2 linked regions of the Homo sapiens genome follow. The protein of the gene in region 2 purifies or fractionates together with the protein of the main gene of each other region. This does not show direct contact. Each region holds a gene or a part of one and is shown on either strand. Other genes may lie near its edges.

Region 1 (3,500 bases), on a different chromosome or scaffold from region 2:
AATAAAATAAAATAAAACCCCTCATTGACCAGAGTGCACTCAGACCATGCATTTCCATTTCTAGGAATACAGCATACAAAAATTCTGAGAGATATGTAAAGATGGCTATAATATAAGCCTTTGTTTCTTAAAAATTATATTCATTTATTACTTCAATTAAAAATGTTAAAAGATTGGCAAACAAATACCCATTTATGTTTTATATTAAAATATTTCATGTATGTATGAATTTTAAAAAATGATTCCCTGCTTTATAAACCACCTTTTTAACCTATTACTGACTACATATGCTTCAGATAAAATGGTTTCTATGGCAAATTAAATAGGCCTTTGCCTAAGTCTACAGTAACTATCAATATGCAAAATTAATATAAAATGTAAGAAACTGGGCTATATATTTACTACTACATGATCTACCTTGCTGGTTAAAAAAAAAAAAAAATCCCTAAGTCTGGCTCATTTAGTATTGATTGATAAAAGAGAGAAAAAAGTCCTATTTTTAAAAGACTAATTTTATTGCATCCTAAATGAGCAATGATTTGTTTAAAATTCAAAGGAAACGATATAAAAGAAAACCCATGTGTAGAGATTGCTGGTAAAAGGAAACTATGGGAACACAACTACGATTTTTCAGAGAAAACTGGTCTAAAAGAAAACCTACCAAGTGAGCTCACTGGTGGTTCAAAAACATTCAGAGTTTAATGAATCACAAGGATGAAATGTCTTTACCTTCTCCGAGGAGATCTGCTTCTTCTTCTTGGAGACCTGCTACGTCTGAGTGGGGAACGAGACCTCCTTCTAATGGGAGATCTACTTCTTCTTCGGGTTGGAGACCATCTATTGATGGGGCTGGCATCTTTTGATCTTTCACGTCTACTGAGGATATCATCTCGAGGTCGTGTTCTTAAGGGGATCAAATGCAAGTTAAAAGAAATATAAATCAAAGTAAATGATTTTTTTCTATATGCAAAGAACATCTGTAAGAAAAGGCACATTAGCCTAAAGAAAGTGAACTTTGATTAATGTGTTTTGTAACAAAACTTACTCAGGTGACTACAGTGATATTTTGGTGTTATTGCAGGCAAACAATGAAAGGTCTTATTTCCTCTGGTCCCACAGTTTGAAAAATTACTAAAGGTTATTCATACCGGTAAAGTCACTGATTCTAATTTCAAATAAACCAACTCAAATAAAACCTCCCCAAGTGAGTATAATACTCCATTTACTCAAATATTCCATTTTCATTGACGACTTTTTCTTTCTACATCCTGACATTTCTCCAATTAAGGATCTTTTTTTTTTTTTTTTTTTTTTGAGACAGGGTCTAACTCTGTCACCCAGGCTGGAGTGCAGTGGCGCAAACACGGGTCACTGCAGCCTTGACCTCCCAGGCTGAGGCAATCCTTCCACTTCAGCCCCCCTGAGCAGCTGGAACCATAAGGGCATGCCACCACACCTGACTAATATTTTGTTTTGTAGTGATGGGGGTCTCACTATGTTGCCCAGGCTGGTCTCGAACTCCTGGCCTCAAGTGGTTCTCCCTTGGCCTCCAAAAGTGCTGAGGTTACAGGTGTGACCCACCATGCCCGGGCAAAAATCTTCTTTTTAATGTCAAGTATAATAGGCCAGGCACAATGGTTTACACTTGCAATCCCAGCACTTTCAGAGGCTGAGGGAGGACCGCCTGAGCCCATGAGGTTGAGGCTGCAGTGGCTGTGTTTGTGCCACTGCAGCCCAAGTGACAGAGTGAGAACTTGTCTCAAAAAAACAAAAACAATAGCTAGGTGTGGTGGCTCACACTTGTAATCCCAGCACTGTGGGAAGCTGAGGCAGATGGATCACTTAAGCTCATGAGTTTGAGACCAGCCTGGGTAACATGGCGAAACCCTATCTCTACAAAAAATATCAAAATTAGCCAAGTGTGGTGGCATGTGCCTATAGTCCCAACTAATAGGGAGGCTCAAGTGGGAGGATTGTGTAAGCCTGGGAGGCAGAGGTTGCAGTGAGCAGAGATCATGCCACTGCACTCCAGCCTGGGTGACAGAGTGTGACCCTGCCTCCAGTCTCCCCAGAAAAACCCCACAAAAACCCAACTTTTCAACACTTATCACACAAGTACCTTTCAGTGAGTTTTACTCTTGTTTAATGTGATATTTGTATTACAACAGGCCTTTCTACAGCTTAATTTTTTAAAACAGGTTTTGAACATTTCTTAATGTTATTCCAGGTTTGGTCACAACTATTCAATCTGAACAGTCAGATTGTAAATAGGTTTGTCTCCATAATCAAATAATATTACAGTATTTTCCTCATTTATTATTATTATTATTTTTTGAGATGGAGTTTTGCTCTTGTTGCACAGGCTGTAGTGCAATGGTGTGACCTCGGCTCACTGCAACCTCTGTCTCCCGGCTTCAAGAGATTCTCCCGCCTCAGCCTTGAGTAGCTGGGATTACAGGCATGAGCAACCACGTCCAGCTAATTTTATATTTTTAGTAGAGACAGGATTTCTCCATGTCGGTCAAGCTAGTCTCGAACTCCTGACCTCAGGTGATCCACCCGTCTCAGCCTCCCCAAAGTGCTGGAACACAGGCGTGAGCCACTGCAACTTGCCTTCCTCATTTAATAAAAACCTAAAAACACAACCTGCCTTGCATGTTTCAGCACGGTATACAGAACCCAAGAATCCTTCTCTGATCCAGCCAAAATGAGCAAGGTAGACTTTGATTCAGATCTGTAGTGCTTACTTCTTGGTAGTGCTTACTTCTTGATAGGGCCATCTGAGGAAACTCTTTTATTTAATCTGCTCACATACACGCACAGCCTCAAAAGACCAGTTAAAAAATATAAATGGGCTGGGTGCGGTGGCTCACGCCTGTAATCCCAACACTTTGGGAGGCCAAGGCAGGCAGATAACCTGAGGTCAAGAGTTCGAGACCAGCCTGGCCAACGTGGGGAAACCTCATCTCTGCTAAAAATATCAAAAAAAAAAAAAAAAAAAAAAAAAAAAAAAAATTAGCCGGGCGTGGTGGCGCACACCTGTAGTCCCAGCTACTCGGGGAAGCTGAGGCAGGAGAATTGCTTGAACCCAGGAGGCAGAGGTTGCAGTGAGCCAAGATCACACCACTGCACTCCAGCCTGGGCGACAGAGCGAGACTCCATCTCAAAAAAACAAAACAAAACAAAACAAAAACAACACACATATATGTGTATATATATGTATATATAAATGGATGGGATAAAGTAAACTAGTATAAAAAGAACAGAGTGTTGTCTGCTAAAATGCAATGAAAATAAACAGTGGCTCAGGCCTGTAATCCCAACACTTTGGGAGGCCGAGGTGGGCGGATCACGAGGTCAGAAGTTCAAGACCAGCCTGGCCAACATGGTGAAACCCTGTCTCTACTAAAAATACAAAAATTAGCTGGGCATGGTGGTGCGTGTCTGTAATCCCAGCTACTTGGGAGGCTGAGGCAGGAGAATCGCTTGAACCCAGGAGG
Region 2 (3,500 bases):
AGCATATTAAAAGGTCCCCAAGCCCAGCCTTTCAGATTCGGGAAAGCCTTTCTGTAGGAAGTTCCATCTCAGGTGAGACCTGAAGTATGAAGTGCATTTAAGACAGAGGGACAGAGTGTGCACAGACCCTTCCCTCCGCAAAAAAAAGCACTGCCAGTTGGGAGAACCAACTGGAACAAAGTGTGTGTGGGGAAAGAATGGGTAAGATGCATTAGCAAGGAACCAGGGACTGGATCAAACCACTTTAAGAGTTTGGATTCCTTCGCTGGGCGCGGTGGCTCACGCCTGTAATTCCAACACTTTGGGAGGCCGAGGCGGATGCATCACGAGGTCAGGAGATCAAGACCATCCTGGCTAACATGGTGAAACCCCGTCTCCACTGAAAGTACAACAAATTAGCTGGGTGTGGAGGTGGGCACCTGTAGTCCCAGCTACTCAGGAGGCTGAGACAGGAGAATGGAGTGAACCCGGGAGGTGGAGCTTGCAGTGAGCCGAGACACGCCACTGCACTCCAGCCTGTGCGACAGAGCGAGACTCCATCTTAAAAAAAAAAAAAAAAAAAAAAAAGAGTTTGGATTCCTTCCTGAAGGCTATGGGGAACCACAGAATGTGGCCAAAAAAATGGCACCTTAAAGAACCTAAAGTTTTAACAGCTTAAGTTAAACAAACTGTTATGGCTTACAGTCTTTAGCAACTTTCCAGCTACGACAGTTTATGCTGCACTTCAGTTTACTTAGATACTCCAATATAACTGTGCAAGCACTGAACCTGCAGCCAAATGAACATTCTCTCAAGACAATCACAAAGAGGAGAATCTGAAATGAACAGAGCAATTTTCTTCTGAATCTCATTTATGTCTGTAGGAACCTAGGCTTGCCATGACCTCATTATGTTTTTGTAAGCCTATTGCATAAGAAATGCCACTGGAAGTCAGACCACCACGCATTATTCTGACTGACACCAGGGAGCAATGAATGGGAGAGTGCAATTGTCCCCTGTGATGATAACCTCAAAAGGTCACAGACCTTTTCCAAACATCCATAGCTTCCTTCTGATATCCCAGAAAGCCAAACCCTCTATGGAAACAAAATGTGACTAGACGTAGTATGCAAAAACTACATTTTAAAAAGAAAAATCTCAATGACTGTAGGCAATTGCCTCCAGATAATGGCATGTTCCTAAAGATGCCATGTTCTAGAATTCAGCAGGAACAAGCAAGGTATCCACGGGAAAGAAAAACAAACCTTTCGCATCCTCTACTTTTCTAGGCGATTGCTTACATAAACAAAATTATAAGATGCTTATGAATATCTAAAGCATGTTTACACACATCCTCTGAAATACCTAAAGGAAGCATCTGTACACAATCAATTACTCTGTAATATGCACATATAATTTTGTTTCAATCCATGAAGAAACTTAGGTTGAACAGAGCCTCAGACAGGAGTGCTGATGAAGGGTTGAGGAAGTCATGGGTCCTCATCTAACAGAGTCCTTCTCTATCAATTCCTGACCCCAGGGTCTGTCAGGTCTTAAGGTTACCAATCTTGAAATGCAACTTGGTAGCACTGGTCCTACTTAAAGTGACCTCTGCATGCAATTGGCAAGTCATCCCTTGTCTGTGACTCAACTGTTCTCTGTAAAGTGGGTCTAATATTTATCCCTTCACAGAAATCTGAAGGAAAAACAGAACAAAACACCAGCCTGCTCTCAAACCTCAAGAAATAAAGATATTGGCTCTATTTTGAAATGAACTAAAATGTATTATCCATTCAACACCTTGGTTATATTTTTTAATGGCATATTTTCAGTTATTTGAAGGATGCTAAAGAAAGCAACACTCAACTCTGAATAATGTAGAACTGATTATTTTATTTTATGAGATGGAGTCTTGCTCTGTCACCCATGCTGGAGTGCAGTGCTGTAATCATAGCTCACTGCAGCCTCCAACTCCTGGGCTCAAGTGATCCTCCCACTTCAGCATCCCAAGTAGCTGGGACTACAGGTGCAAGCCATCATGCCTGGCTAATTTATTATTATTATTATTATTTAGAAATGGGGTCTTGCTATGTTGCCCAGGCTGGTCTCAAACTCCTGGCCTCAAGCAATCCTCCCACTCACACCTCAGCCTCCCAAAGTGCTGGGATCATAGGCACGAGCCACTGTGCCCAGCCACGACTGTTATTTTTAAACCCAGAATGCTGCTGATCATTAAAATAGCTACAAAAAGTGAAAATCAGCTGGCATGGAAGTGGTTAATTTTGGGACACCTGGTAACTTTCCACTTGTTAGAAACCTAATAAGTTTCTTGGTGTAAGTATACTCTTCTTAGCTTTGATGTCTAGATAATGCAGTTTTACTAGTTCCTCAATTGGACTGAATTACACGGTAAACAAAGACTGTTATAAATCTAAAAACATCTCAAACACTTGGTTTAGAGGAAATAACTTTAAGTGCTTGGTCACAAATACATTCAACTTAGTTCTAAGAGGTGGGTAAAAAAAATTAGCTGAGTCACTAAATTTAATGATCTGAAGGCCACAAAGAAAGAGAAAGTAGGAGACCGGGCATATCCAGACTTCACAATGTCTTTAGAGTTTAAATGTGATGGGAACCAGTGTTCTTAGCAGGCAACTAAGATACACAACAGAATCTGAATGTCCATTCTAATAATTTTCCAGTGCTAATCCTTTTTAAATGGAAGAGTTAAAACAGAGGGGAAAGAAGGATCCTTTAAAAATGGTAATTACTTTTATCTTTGAGCTGTACAGAGATATTTCATTAGAAAAACAGAAACACAGGACTTCAAAGTTTCCCATTTTATGCCAAGAGTCAACTACTTCAGAGAGGAAAATACTTCAGAAGTATTTTGGTTTCTCAGTCACAAATACATGCTGTAATAAAACATAATGCAAATATCTACGTGCCTTCTTCAGACTGTCACCAAGCATCTAGAGTTGTTTGTGATTTGTTTAACCAAGACACAAGGTCCCCACCAGAGTGCCGCAACTGGAAGGTAGAAGGAGGGTGTTTTCTTTTTTAACACCTCTATGAAACACTCAGGGCAAGAAGTGGTAACATTCCCAAGATAGCACACATTTTTGTAGGACCTAGAAATGCCACCGTGATCCCAGATTTACTATGACTGGGAAAGTTCATACTGTCAACAGCTCTATCAGCATACGCCTGGAAGTGTGTGTATCACTCTTCCAACACAGCGTGTGTATCACTCTTCCAACACAGCAACCTCATCCCTCTCTCCCCGAAGTAGGAAATGTTTGTGTGCTCTGTAATCTAGAATGCCCCCTAAGACAAAAATCTTCCACCATTATCCATAATAAAAATGACCATCTCCACCTGAGAATATTCAACAACTTCTGAAAACACACTGAGTTTCAAATAATCACATACAGAACACCACCAACTAGTAACACTGTAAGGAAATAATTTCATACAGAACTACAAGCAAAGGAAGTAAAATACTTGTTATCACAATTTTC

The links. Proteins that work in one complex are often made in the same cells at the same time.
Region 1: the proteins of ARHGAP35 (region 2) and PRP4K purify together in Homo sapiens (affinity purification with mass spectrometry, with the first as the bait; one large-scale study listed by BioGRID). This does not show direct contact.

What each region holds. Positions count from the first base shown.
Region 1 is NC_000006.12:4,034,800-4,038,299, reverse strand, and holds part of PRP4K (serine/threonine-protein kinase PRP4 homolog), read right to left. Parts: intron 904-3,500; coding exon 730-903; intron 1-729. UniProt on the Homo sapiens protein: Serine/threonine kinase involved in spliceosomal assembly as well as mitosis and signaling regulation. Connects chromatin mediated regulation of transcription and pre-mRNA splicing.
Region 2 is NC_000019.10:46,912,997-46,916,496, reverse strand, and holds part of ARHGAP35 (rho GTPase-activating protein 35), read right to left. Parts: intron 1-3,500.